4 linked regions of the Homo sapiens genome follow. The protein of the gene in region 3 purifies or fractionates together with the protein of the main gene of each other region. This does not show direct contact. Each region holds a gene or a part of one and is shown on either strand. Other genes may lie near its edges.

Region 1 (3,500 bases), on a different chromosome or scaffold from region 3:
GAAGTGGTCCTCAGACAGGCCGAGATCCATCACGCGTTCAGGGCAGCGGAATTCCGGCTCCCCAGGGGGCAGCTCAGGCAGGGCCTCTGGAGGAAGACGGGGACAGGTGTGGAGCGTCAGCTGCTACCTCCTGCCTCCCATCCCCTAGGGAGGAGCTGAGATAGCCAGGAGTGGGAAAGGGATTCAGGAAGCCGCACAGAAAGGAGGCACCGTGAGAGCTGGGCACCACTCAGATCTGCACACCGTCCAGTCTGCATTCACAGAGGAGCCCACAGCCTTGTGTAGACAGGAAAGAGCCACTCAAAATGAGGAGGTGGAATGACACTCGGTGCCAAAAGTCCTCAAGACAGCATTATAGAGACATCCCATTTCTAAGGTGGACACCTCATGCGTGACCACGGGGGCGAGAGAAAAACCACTGCATGGCTACACAGCAAAATCCACGAACCCCAGTGTCGACTCCAGGCCGTCTCTGCAGCTGCCCCGCTCCAAGCACTCCCTGATGACCTCATCTGCAGTTTCTAAAGCTCATGCCACCCTGACGCCCAGAGCACGTTCCCTCGGCTAACCTCTCCCTTACCAGGTCTCAGCGCTGACCGCACTCAGCAAGTGTTCCCTGAGCACCTACTATGTGCTGGGCCCTAGGATGCAGCAGTGATGGGTCAGGCACAAATCTTGCCCTCAGGAATGTGAATTCTAGTGGGGACACAGAAACAAACCACACGACCACAGAAGAGATGGGAAAAAGAACACAGCCAGCAGGTGCCGGCTCCGTGGGAAAGCCAGGGCTGCGCAGGACGCGGCAGGAAGAAAGGAGGGGTCCACGTAAGCAGTCAGAGACCTGCCCAGCTCCCACCCTGACTCCCACCAGCACCCACCTTCAGGAGTGACGTCCGGGACCTCCTCCCCAGGGCCCTGCTCATGCTGTCTCGGCCCAGACTGCTTGTTGAAGGGGTTGAGGTGGGCCTGCCGGAAACGGGCCAGCTTCTCATCATATTCCATAGCATCCCACCTGAGGGCCAGGCAGGGCCAGGATGAGTCCCCAGGTACCAGGCTCACCACGGACCACCCCCTTTCCCCAACCACACTGGGGTGTCTGGGGTGAGGCTGGCCTCTTTCACTTCCCTAAAGTGGGTAGTCCTCACACCACAGCCTTGATCTTCAGCCTTTTCCTGAAACACCTCAGCTGCCTCCTGCCCAGGCCCCCACTGGTGGCGTCCCCTTGGAAAGAGCTCACGGTGACAATGAGGGTCCCACGAGGGCACGTGGCCCATCTGAGGGGCCCAAGCTCCCTGCCTCCCAGCACAGGGTCCTCTTGCCCAATGTTGCAGAGCTCCAGCCCTAGAGCTACCTATGGGATCCTCTCTGGGCCTCAGCCCCAGATACTCACTCAGCCCCGCTCTAGCTTGCTATCCACCTGCTATGTGAGACACACCTCTCAGAAATGGGTTCCTCCTTCCTGGGCCCCAAGCAAAGGTGCTTTCTTGTCAGAGCACCCTGAAACCACAGCCCCTGTCTCAGGACTTAGGGTTGGACACTTGGGGACAGTTCCAGGGCCCATTCCTGCTCTGCCACAGGTGAGTGAGCAGGGCCCACCTTCCCCATGCCCAGGAGCAGGGGATCTTGGGAGGATTCCCTGCCAGCACACAGAGAAGCCCCCTACAAATGCATCCAGGCTCTCTGGCCTGGGTTCTGATCCTGTGATGAGCAACACGACCTGAACCAGGCCCACGGCTCTGTGCCTCAGGAACCCAGGAAACAGGCCGGAAGGGCCTAGTTCTCCACGTGGCAGAAGCTCAGGATCAAGAATTGCTCTTTCCCCACCCGGAGGCTCAGAACACTGCAGAACACACAGGGCTGATGGCTCCTGGCAGGGAGGAAGGGACTTTGGTTGGGGTGGGAGTAGAGGCAGTTGGCATCCAGCCCTCCCACTTAACTTCCTGGGCCACATTCCTTAGCCTCTCTGCCTCCATTTCCCCATCCGTAATGGGCCATTGTGAGGGTGAAATGAGTTAACAGAGACTGAGCACAAAGTAAGCTCGCTGTAAGGTCTGTTGATGTTATAGAAAGTCGGAGATGTCTTTTTAAAGTTGTTCAGTAACTGCAACAGTGTTAGTTATGCTTTCACTACACCTGCTACAGTGTTAGTTATGCTTTCACTACACCTGCTACAGTCTGAAATAATTCACAATTATAATAATCAATCCTATGATTTATCCTCTGTCTCTTCTCCCAAAAGAAAGAGAGCTGAGCCCAGAGGGGACGGCCCTGCTCAGGGTCACACTGTGGCCTGGAAGAACTGGGATTTGAACTAATTGCCTCACTGGCAGTGGGATAAGGAGGCCACCCCAACCCCACATGGCTGCCCTGCAACTGGGCAAGACTCCACACCACCTATGGGGCCTGTCCTGCCTGTTGTGCCTGTGGGGCAGGAGTGTGGGTTGGGCACCTGCACGCCAGCCTGAAAGGACAAAGCACCCATGGACAGGCTGCCCGTGGACCCCAACAGGGAGGCACGGGGAAGACACAGGGAACGTGAGTGGGCCCCAGTCCCACCTCCTTCTCTTATTACCTGATGACTGTGGGTGGGTCACAGAGTCAGAGGCGGCCACCCGATGCCAGCACCTCCCCAGTCTCCCAGGGAGCACCCAGGACACAGGAGAAATCAGGCCATCCCAACATCACTCCTCCTTCTTCCTGAATGAGGAGCCTCATTTTTGTTTGTCACATAATTTCCCAGCCTCCCCAGCAGCTAGACCTGGTAAAGTGACTGTTCTGACCCCCTCGGCTTGAGAAGATCAGGCAGATCTGAGCAGCTCTGGGCTCCTGGCTTCACTGACATACCCAAGTGCTTAGCCCTTCCATCCACCCCAGGAAGTACGTGTTCTCCCTGATTTATAGGCAAGAAAAGGGAGAACCAGAGACTAAATCAGGGCTATCTGAAAACAACAGTAATGGGCCGGGCGTGGTAGCTCACACCTATAATCCCAGCACTCTGGAAGGCCAAGGCAGGAGGACGGCATCCGGCCAGGCCCAATGCAATGAGGCCCTATCTCTATTAAATTTTATACAAATATGGGCTGGGCGCCGTGGCTCACGCCTGTAATCCCAGCACATTGGGAGGCCGAGGCGGGCGGATCACCAGGTCAGGAGATCGAAACCATCCTGGCTAACACATTGAAACCCTGTCTCTACTAGAAATACAAAAAATTAGCCAGGTGTGGTGGCAGGCGCCTGTAGCCCCAGCTACTCGGGAGGCTGAGGCAGCAGAATAGCGTGAACCCAGGAAGCGGAGCTTGCAGTGAGCCGAGAACGCACCACTGCACTCCAGCCTGGGCAACAGAGCGAGACTCCATATCAAAAAAAAAAAAAATCTTTTTTACATAAATATGTATGTGTGTGTATATACATATATATGTGTGTGTGTGTATACATACATATGAGAAAAAAGAAAAGACTTCTGAGAATTGTCCTTAAAGGTAGGGGCTGCCCCTCTTCAG
Region 2 (3,500 bases), on a different chromosome or scaffold from region 3:
GTGCTGTCCTCAGCCCTTGGCTTGGCTGCCAAACAGCTATGGAATTTGTGTGGTCCAGCGTAAAATGAAAATGCAGGGCCTCGTGTTCAAAAATCATTAAGAGTGTCAAATGCTGATGGGAGAAAATAAAACCAAGCTCAGGGTCCTCTGAGTACAGGCTGCACACCCTGCCTGGCTGGGGCCCCTGAGAATGCACCATTCCGGTGGTCTCAGGACCTGTCTGCATCAGCTGGGAGGAAACAGATCTTCACAGTGGTCAATATCTCCGATTCTGCCTCTCACTGGGGCAGTTTGAAGGCAGAGCACATGGCCCACTGTAGGAGTATTTGTACAACTTGGGAAGGGTGGAGTTGGGTCAGGGACATTGTGGAAGAGCGACAGAAAAGACGGAGCTGAAGGCCTAAGAAAGAGCTCTTTTCTCTGTAGTAGGGTCAGGTAGTTTTGAAAAATATCAGCCCCAGGTCTCATGGCACTGTGGAAAGTGCATGTCTAGGGAGAGAATGGACAATTCTAAGTACGGAGGCCCAAATTTCCTGTAGCAGATATGGCCCCAGGGCAGTGCCACCTGGAAGTTCCATTCAGATCCAGAGGCCATCGCCCTTGCTGCTCAAGATGGACTTGGGCCGGGGAAAGATCCGGGTTCTTCACAGTCACATCCCCAGCCCCAGGCTCTAGAGCTCCTGGCAAGGAAGAACATGGGCCAAAGGCAACATTCCCAGGAAGCCCTCAGGGGAAGTGATGCCAGATGCCCTGCAGGAGAGAGGGACGATCTTTAATGGTCTGTAGGATGCCTGTGGGGCGTTTCCAAGTACCCTGGGAGACTGCAGAAGGGAGGCAGTAGTTGCCTAGAAAGGCTAAGTGGAGGTAGGAAGATAAGGGCTAAGGGATGGGGAGCAATCCAGCTCTCTTAATAAATGAGTACAAGACCTTGAGAAAAGTCGCCACCTTCTCTGAACCTCCATCTCAGCTGTGAGATGGGAAAAATAATGGTATAGACACAGGAGGAACCATTTCCTTGCCTGACTTTCTGGAAATTCGCCATGATCCCAGAGCTTCTTTGACTGTACTTCCCTCTGCCAAGAGAAGAAGCCCTACATGACGGTCACCAACATGGGTGTGAGGTCAGGGACCCAGCATCAGTCCTGCTCAACCTTCTACTAGCTGGTGCTATATTCCCTGGACAGTGTTTAATTAATACCTATTATGTGCCAAAGACTATGCTGGGTGCTGAGGGCACAAGGGCAAGGAGAAAACATTGACCTGCCTTGATTAGACAGGGGCTTGAGGACCCCAGAAGACAAAGTGTTCTGAGCAGGAGGAATGGTGATCACAAAGATCCCACGGCAGCCAGGAGAAGCCAAGAAGACCAGAAAAGTGAGTAAGTCAGGTTCCAGGCAGGGATGGAAGGGTGGGAGATGCTGAAGGCCAGGGTACAGACTTGGGCTGTTTTTCTAAGATCGATTGGAAACCACTGAAGAGTTTGAGGCCGTCCCATGGAGAGCAAATGGGGGTGGGGACCAGAGCGCATGAGGGTAGATTCTCCTGGGCAAGCAGTCTCACCTGTCTTTGGGGACTCAGGGGTATGATGACAGCTTTCTCATATGGCTGCAGGGCTACCTGGCACAGGGCCCGGAATGTTGGAATGTGATAGACACAGGCCCTCCTGTTCCAGCAGCAACAGGTGAGAGTCTTCACCTGCAGGACTGGATCAATTCTCCTTCCCACAAAACCAAACAAACCGCCACCGCCCAAAACACAAAGGAATCGCTTCTCAGCCCTAAACTATTATAAACTGATATGGGAAGATGGGAGCCCAACTTTCCGAATTTTCCTATCAGAATCCCAAAGGGCTCATTTTCAAGACTCCTTATTCAGGAAGCATGCTCTAATTAAGGCTTCTCAGACCCGAGCCCCACATGCATTTTTCTATCCCCCTCCTTCTCCATCTCTTCCATAAAAATACTTGACCTGGCATTCCGGCCAATTACACCCACCCTCATCCTATTAGGCAACTCTTCCTCCTCTCTAATTACAGGAAAGGGGGAGAATGCCCAGAAGGATGGCCCAGCTTCAAGGACTGAAAGAGAGCACCAGCTGGGGGATGTGGGGGAAGGATTGGGGCCCCAATGCCTGACATTCCATCACTGCTGTGAGGGCAGCAAGGGGTCATCACTAGCCTGATCAAGGATGAAGCCATCTTCCCTGAGGAAGGGCTCAGAGCTAATGCTGCAGCATCTGAACTTGTTACAGAGGTGAAGAGGCATAGTAGTCACCTCTTGGGGGTGTCCCTAGCCAAAAACCCTACTCGTCGAGAATTGTGTGCCCCCACCCATAGGAATGAGTTTGCCAAGGCCATGTTTATACTGCTTGATCTTATTCAAGGGTCATGGCTGATTGGGCAAAGAGGAATCATCTAGCCCAAGCTGGACCAATTAAATTATTTCCTCTGGGGAGGAAGCACAGTGTGCATAATTCCAAATCTTACTGCCTCTTCCTAACTGAGGGACCTCAGGCAAGCACACAAACTTACTAGGTTTCATTTTCCTCACCTCTAAAATGGGAATAACAATGCCTACTTCATACAGTGATTGTCTGGATTATCTGATTAAGGAAACAACACACTTAACGTCCTTGGCCTGTGCCCGGCACATAGCCAAGGACCAATATGTGTTAGCTCAAATTCCTAGTATTGATTTAGAATTGGGATTGAGTGACACTAGGCAGCCACTGGGCAGTCTCTTACTGGAAGCACATCAGCTGTGAGGTGTCACATTCGATCAGGTACAAACCAAACACAGAACATAAGCCTGCAGGGAGAAAAAGACCAAGTCCAGGAAAGATAGGATAAGATGAAGACAGACAAAGTAGCCCAGATACAAGTAGAGACTAGAAAGTAGAGAAAGGATGGTGGCTTCATGGCCTGAGACAGCCTCATTCCTGGTTGTAATCCCTCCTGAAGTCCATCTGCCCTAGGAGCTTTTCAGGGAGTTCCTCATCTGCTTAAGCTAGGCCAAAGTGTATTCTTTGCTGTGACTTGCAACTTGTGGCTCCCTGGCATCACTGGAGAGGGGAAAAGGGCATCTACTTCCTGAATGAAAGACTATGCTTCCCTCACTCCCCAGTGTGGTCCTGGCACCAAGCACAGCACCAGGACCTAACAGGTGCTCAGTGAATGCACCTCAAATGAACAAATGAATGAATGAATGAACACGGGCCAACAAACTAAATAGTAGTAAGCCAAGCTAAGGTGCTCTGGTCACTAGGTTCCTTCCCCCTCATCTCAGAAAGGCAATCTCTTCCCTCGCTCCCTCCCTCTGCCTTGGGGCAAGTCTCCAGCACAGCCTCACCTGCAGGATGAGCAACATCTGGACAATGGACGAGGGCAGCTTGGACTGGGCCAGCAGCAGCAGGTCACCCAGCTTCACCTTCAGCAAGACTAGGTCTCGGAAGCCCAGCAGGGAGATCTGGCGGATAGTCAGCTCCTGGCCCTAGAGGGGACA
Region 3 (3,322 bases):
AGGTCAGCAGCCAAGTAAAAGTCATTTTGAGCCCTAAAACCATGAGCCCTGAATCGGGGGATCCACTTAAATAACCCTTCTTTCCTGAGCCCCATCTCTCCTTTATTTCTCCTCTGAGAAATGTCCCCTGTATCCTGAGGTTTCACATGATCCAGTGTCAAGGGTCTGTGTTTTGACATTTAAGTCACAGGAAAAGAAGCCACCGGCGTGGGATCAGCTTGAGTTGTTATACAAGTGTGGGTACACCTCCCCAGAGACCCTGAGATCCTACCCCAGGAAGAGCCTGACTGCTGGGCTTGGCAAGGTGGTTTTCTTACTCTCTTCTCCCTGCCCACTCCTGGCATGCAAGCCCTCTGCCTACAAGTGTTTGCCACGGACCTCCCAAGCCTTCCCCCGTGCCAGGGACTAACATGAGGGTAGGGGACCCTGACAGATGGTAACAGATGGCTGGTGGTCTCCCCCCTGGCCGTGGCAGTGTTAGAATTCAGAAGCCAGACCAGTGATGAGAAAGATCAGGTCTTTACTGCAAAATCATTCAAAACTCACACGGCAGCAATTCCTTCAATACATTGCAAAGACTCCTCAGGGCCAGAGCCCTGCTCACTAGGAACAGTGTATTGCATAAAATAACATTTTAAAAATAGTGTGGGCACTACCTTTCTGAGGGAGGGGAGGCGGGAAGAGTCAATGCATCTGAAAGCACTGGCAGCTTCTGGGGAACGGGCCCCCCAGGGCCTCAAACCTGCTGCCTCCGAGGGCACCTTCGGGGAGAATCCTCACAGGCCCAAGCCCTCCCCAGGCCAGGCTCCTGCCCACTCAGGGATGGGGCAATGAGGGCTCTGACTAGGCTGGGCTTGTGGTGGAGCGTTAATGTGGGCCATGGCGGTGCATAACCCAGCTCCTGGCTTAGGAGGCATTGGCGTCTGGGCACAGGTGTGTGCCATGACCGGGAGAAGCTGTGCGCAGCCTCCACCTGCCTGCCACCGTTGCCTCTGTTCTGCTGCACAGGCATCCAGCTCCAAGGCTGGGTGGGTGACTCAGCAGCTAATCGCCCCCAGGGAAGGGTGGGGGTGGGCTCATCTCTGACAGTGACATGCGGCTCTCCACCTGAGGCCTGACTCCAAGCTGAGCGCAGGTAAGACAGCTAGGACTGAGGGCCTGCTAGGTCCAGGAGAGGTGGGGGAAGGCGACAGAGAGACCAGCAAACCCACATTTCCCCGAAGCCTGGAGGGTCTGACCATCACTTTGAAAACAATTCCAGACTCCCACCCCAGCCCCAAGGCCCCTTCAAAGGCAGTCCTGCTCCGGGGAACTTCTTCAGTCTCCAGTGTCCCGGCTGGGCAAGTTCAGTGATGCTTTGGGAATTCATGGCTTTGTGAGGTGGTGGCTGCATCCACAGGGCAGTTCCCCCGCACGCCCTGCACAGCTTAGGACCAGGTCACTTCTCCACAGTGCAGGGCGTGGCTGCCTGCCCTCTCTGGGGTCCTGCCTATCTGTGCCCTGGCAGGGGTCAGTCAGGCAGAGAGTGTGACCCCGGGCACCCACCAAGGTGGGCCTGGAGCATCTGCAGCAGCGCCCCTGTCTGTAGAGGGGTGAGGAGCGCACGGGGATCGGGGGTGGGCAAGACGGCGACCCTCCATAAACCGAGGAGGGCTCAAAGTGCTGACAGTGCTGGTTTCCAGTCATTTCTCCTTCTCCTAATGGGGCCAAGGCCCCAGGCTAGAGAAGAGCTAGGGGCTCTGACGCTGAGAAAGCGGTGGGCTCAGCAGGCGAGACGCACTGGGGTGGGGAGTAAAGAGGACACAGAGGAACCGGGGTCGCCAGGACTGGCCCTGCCCTGCTGAGGGGCGGTTTGGCACTGGCAGTGAGGGCCAAGGAAAGGCACTGGGTGGGCCCATAGACCCTGTCCCAGCAGTGGCCTGCCCACCAGCCACCCGCTACCTCTAAGCCAGGCCTGAGTGGCTCCTGTGCATCCGCTGGGGGTGAGAATGTCTGGATTTCATGGGTGACTCACGTAGGGTCAAGAATAAAAAAATACTTTCTGTTGAAATATGAATGGGAAAAACCCACCTTAAAAAACTAGACCTTTTAATCAGGAATGTGGAATTGAAAATGCTCCCCAAGTCCCCTTTCCACAGTGTTTGGGCAGCCCTAACGGAGGCGCCGGGACGCTGGTGAGCCAGGGCCTGGTGAGTAAACGGCCCTGCCTGCCCCAGACAGGGAGCATCTGGTGGTGGCCACGCCTCCTGCAGCAGAGGGGTGGGGGGAGGGCCAGGGGACACCACGGGGACTTCCTGGGCTTTCTCTGGGAGGCCGGTGCTCTGGCCACATCTGAGGGTCTTCCTGACAAGGGGACACAGCTGTGACACGGTGAGTATCCTGGGCTGATGGCAAACCCAGCCGGGATGGCTGAGCCACACTCACCCCCGGCTTTCAGAGCGGGGTCAGCAGATGGGCATCAGGCGAAAATGTTCTGTTCCTGGTACTTGCGCCGGCGGGCACAGCGGGGGCAGCCCTTCTTCACCACAGCCTGGCAGCTCTGGTGGAAGACGGTCTTGCACTCGGCACACCTGGGGAGAGAGCAGTAGGCCTGCTGGTGCCGGCTGGGCTGGAGGTTGCCCTGTGGCCACGCTGGCCAGCCCTTTTGACCAGAACCCACGATACGGCTGTGATGTACTGTGTAACCCATGCACGCACACCGTGCCTCTCCGTTCTGGAACAGGAGAGTCTTGAAACAGTGCTTACCCATACGTCACACAATGCACACTGATATTCTCTGTCCTATTGCATTTTTTATAAATGCTGCTTGAGATTCATTAAAGATCTCTTGCCTATATTTAAAAAATATTTACGGCCAGGCGCAGTGGCTCACGCCTTTAATCCCAGCACTTTGGGAGGCCGAGGTGGGCGGGTCACAAGGTCAGGAGATCGAGACCATCCTGGCTAACACAGTGAAACCCTGTCTCTACTAAAAATACAAAAATTAGCCGGGCGTGGCGGTGTGTGCCTGTAGCCCCAGCTGCTGGGGAGGCTGAGGCAGGAGAATGGCATGAACCCGGGAGGCAGAGCTTGCAGTGAGCCGAGACTGCACCATTGCACTCCAGCCTGGGCGACAGAGCAAGACTCCATCTCAAAAAGAAAAAAAAAATTTTTTTTACTTACTTTATTTATTTATTTTTCAGAGTCTTGCTCTGTTGCCCAGGCTGGAGTGCAGTGGCACGATCTCGGCTCACTGCAACCTCTGCCTCCCGAATTCAAGTGATTCCCCTGCCTCAGCCTCCCAAGTAGCTGGGATTACAGGTGCCCACCACCACACCTGGCT
Region 4 (3,500 bases), on a different chromosome or scaffold from region 3:
GTGGGTGTATGCTGCATATCATACAATCTAATAATATTACTATCCCTTGTTAAAGTGGCAAGTAGACCAGTCCTAGTGGGACACCATGCTACTTTTGTTAAGGGTTTTGGTTGCTCAGTCAATGTCAAAACTGGCTTCTCAAATTTTCTAAGATCCCATATTGCAACCTGACCTTCATAGAAGGAAGCAACACGATCGTGGAAATATGGGTCTACCGTCACACCCTGAACAGCTTTTGTATTTACGAACATCTTTTGGCTTGTATTCCGAAGATCAAATATAGCTAGGTTACGATGCATACCAGCAAGGAGAAGTTTCTGGTCTCGTGGAAGCCAACAAAGAGACAGACAAGCATCATTCTGTCCTAACTCATAAAGTGGTTTTGTTACTAATAATGTTGTTTCAGTTTCACCTGCTGAAAGTTTCACTTTTTCCATGGGAACTATATCAGGAGTATATTTGCTGCAGATATCCCATATTAGCACTGAAAAGTCAGCTCTGTGCTTATCTAAACCAGCAGCTAGCCAGTTACTATCCAGTGGATTCCAGGCAAGGGTATTACATTGTCGTGCATGTTTTGGAACAAACTCTTTTCCTATCAAATCTTTGAACTTTGAGTTATGATCTTGACCAAGGCTTGTAAGTACAACTCGACCATTTGCTTGTCCAACTGCCAGCAGACATTCAGGATCATAATTAAGATACCAGGCAACACATTTCATATAGGGTGTATCTGAATTTATTGACAGTAATGTAGCTGCAGAGTCTTCAGATAAACGTAAAGATCCAGCTTTGAGTTCTGAATTCACAGTAGATTCCACATGATAAAGACTTAGTTCTGAGTCACACACAACAAATCTATCAACATGGTGTGGTGCCCATAAAATATCAGGTTTGGTACCGCTCATGTTTACTGATGTGATCAAAGGGTCCACTCAGGTCCATTCACTGAAAATGTTTAAAAATAAAAAGTTTTAAAATATCAGCAAAATATAATTCTTACGTTGAATAAACTATTCAGAAAGTCAGAAAATTCTCTATTCAAGAACCCTCTTTTTCAATATATTTGTATTTCTTCTCTCTATCTGCTATGAATTCAAGAAAATATTTATTGAAAAAAAAGGAGAAAGAACAACCACTTCCAATAAAATGAGCTGGTAGGAATCTGAGAATCCCATCCTGGCTATATTTCCCATGATCAATTATCTTAATTGCACTGTTACTAGTACCTTCAGCTTAACTTCAGAGTTATAACAACTTCAGTGTGGTAAGCAAATTAATAAGTATTATCCCTTTGAAGGGGGGAAAACTTATGAATCATATTCCTAAGCAATAGTTTAAAGCAGCACTGCCCAATAAAACTTTCTGCAATGACAGAAATGTTTCATGTTCATGCTGTCCAATATGGTAGCCACTAGCCACATGTAGCTACTGAGCACTAGAAATGTGACTAATTCAAATTTTAAACCTTAATTTTAACAAATTTTAATATAAATAACCATATGTGGTCATCGTAATGAACAATGGAGATTTAAAGTACAATGTCATACTAAGACAGCGGTTTCTTCAACTTTAGTAATAAGCATCAGCCTTGTATGGCAGAATAAACACTGGAATGTACTGAACGAACCTGAGTTCTAGTCCTAGCTCTGCCGTATATTAGTTATATGCCTCAGAAAAGTCATTGTGTGTGGGGAACCCCTTTGTTTTCTCATCTACACAATGTAGGAGCTGGTTTAGATTAGTATTTCCCAAACTTCAGTCATGTAACACCTATGCCATTAATATTTTTCTTTAAACTGACTCATTTTTAAAATCTGAAAATTGACTTTAATCTCTTCATAAGGTCCATGAATCATGGTATGCTATGCTAAATATATTTTTAACCTACACTGAAATATATAACTATTAAAAAGGCTTGATTGTGTTTTATCTACAAAGCATCCTGTTTATGACCAGTGGTACACACATACCACACTCTGAGAAAGTGGATTAAGTGATCATTAGAGGCTCTTTCAGTTTTCGCTTCTACAAACTTTGAATAAGTGTTAAAGTAGAATTTTTGAAAAAAATAAATATTCTAGCAGTAGAAGCACACGAACTAAATATAGCTATAGTTAAAAATGGTGTTTCAATAATTAAGGTTGCCTACAAAAATTTAAATGCCTGTTTCTAACAGAGGCTGGCAAAAGGTAATAGATTCAAAAAGAATGAACATACTTAAAATCTTCATTGCAATTGGCATCTGTACAACTCTGTTGTCAGTTCTCATAAGGTAAAGCTATGGTTCACTTACCTCTCTATCCTTAGTGCCATATATAGAGCCTGGCATAGACTCCTAATAAGGATACACTAAATAGTTCAACTCAAACATAATTGCTTTTCTTTTTGATCTTGCAAAAGTTTCAGTTGGGAATTACCAGTCTAAAACTTCATAGACTCATATAATTTAGACCAGGGGTCCCCAACTCCCAGGGCCGCAGACCAGTTCTGCTCCCTGGCCTGTTAGGAACCAGGCCACACAGCAGGAGGTGAGCAGCAGGCAAGGGAGCTAAGCGTCATCTGTTATTTACAGCCACTCATCTCACACACTGCTGCCTGAGCTCCGCCTCCTGTCAGATCAATAGCAGCATTAGTTTCTCACAGGAGTGCAAACCCTATTGTGAACTGTGCAAGAGAGGGATCTAGGTTGTGCATTCCTTGTGAGAATCTAATGCCTGATGATCTGTCACTGTCTCCTATCACTCCCATATGGGACCATCTAGTTGCAGGAAAACAAGCTCAGGGCTCCCACTGATTCTACATTACGGTGAGTTGTATAATTATTTCATTGTATAGTACAATGTAAATAGAAATAAAGTGCACAATAAATGTAATGCGCTTGAATCATCCTGAAACCACACCCCCACCCCTCATCCGTGAGAAAATTGTCTTCCATGAAACTGGTCCCTGGTGCCAAAAAGGTTGGGGACCACTGATTTAGGAATTCTTATACTGGTTTTATTTCCTTCTTTAGCATTTCTCAAGCCCAAGATCAATCATTTCAATATTCTTACTAGCACCCTCAATGTCTTCATTTCCTTGCCACTTTGGGTTTGCCTTTCCCCAGTCCTAGATCAACCCAATTATTTATCATCTTGTCTCCTCACTCAGGCTTCCAAGTGCTACCACACAGAGGATAGTCTCAAGCCTCTGAAAACTGATTTCAGTAAATTAAGGTATACAACATATCTGGTGTGTGGTGCTGGAGGCTTTTCTTTTATTCATCTTTCCCCTGGTCCTTCAGAAATTTTGCTTTATAGAATACCAGAGTAAAAATCTTTCTACAACACAACCTTGACCAGGCTATCCTTCCTTGCTTAAAACCCTCTAATGGTCTTCAGCTGCTCTTAGTATAACCTACAAAACCCTAAATGCTTTTGGTCTCTGCCTACTGCACCGGCCTTGTGGCACAACATTCTTGCTGTCCTTTTACACTGTCCTTTCCACTTCCTAGAGTA

Evidence for each region. The genes of interacting proteins can lie anywhere in the genome.
Region 1: the proteins of PLEKHM1 (region 3) and DEF8 purify together in Homo sapiens (affinity purification with western blotting; one study listed by BioGRID). This does not show direct contact.
Region 2: the proteins of PLEKHM1 (region 3) and PRR5L purify together in Homo sapiens (affinity purification with mass spectrometry; one study listed by BioGRID and IntAct). This does not show direct contact.
Region 4: the proteins of PLEKHM1 (region 3) and MIOS purify together in Homo sapiens (affinity purification with mass spectrometry; one study listed by BioGRID and IntAct). This does not show direct contact.

Annotation. Positions count from the first base shown.
Region 1 is NC_000016.10:89,951,755-89,955,254, reverse strand, and holds part of DEF8 (differentially expressed in FDCP 8 homolog), read right to left. Parts: exon of another isoform or gene 2,573-3,500; intron 1,879-2,572; exon of another isoform or gene 1,735-1,878; intron 1,013-1,734; coding exon of another isoform or gene 1,003-1,012; coding exon 879-1,002; intron 87-878; coding exon 1-86. UniProt on the Homo sapiens protein: Positively regulates lysosome peripheral distribution and ruffled border formation in osteoclasts. Involved in bone resorption.
Region 2 is NC_000011.10:36,446,288-36,449,787, reverse strand, and holds part of PRR5L (proline-rich protein 5-like), read right to left. Parts: intron 3,489-3,500; coding exon 3,348-3,488; intron 1-3,347. UniProt on the Homo sapiens protein: Associates with the mTORC2 complex that regulates cellular processes including survival and organization of the cytoskeleton.
Region 3 is NC_000017.11:45,435,400-45,438,721, forward strand, and holds the end of PLEKHM1 (pleckstrin homology domain-containing family M member 1), read right to left. Parts: intron 2,571-3,322; coding exon 2,459-2,570; 3' UTR 501-2,458; downstream 1-500. UniProt on the Homo sapiens protein: Acts as a multivalent adapter protein that regulates Rab7-dependent and HOPS complex-dependent fusion events in the endolysosomal system and couples autophagic and the endocytic trafficking pathways.
Region 4 is NC_000007.14:7,569,884-7,573,383, reverse strand, and holds part of MIOS (GATOR2 complex protein MIOS), read right to left. Parts: intron 949-3,500; 5' UTR 909-948; coding exon 1-908. UniProt on the Homo sapiens protein: As a component of the GATOR2 complex, functions as an activator of the amino acid-sensing branch of the mTORC1 signaling pathway. The GATOR2 complex indirectly activates mTORC1 through the inhibition of the GATOR1 subcomplex.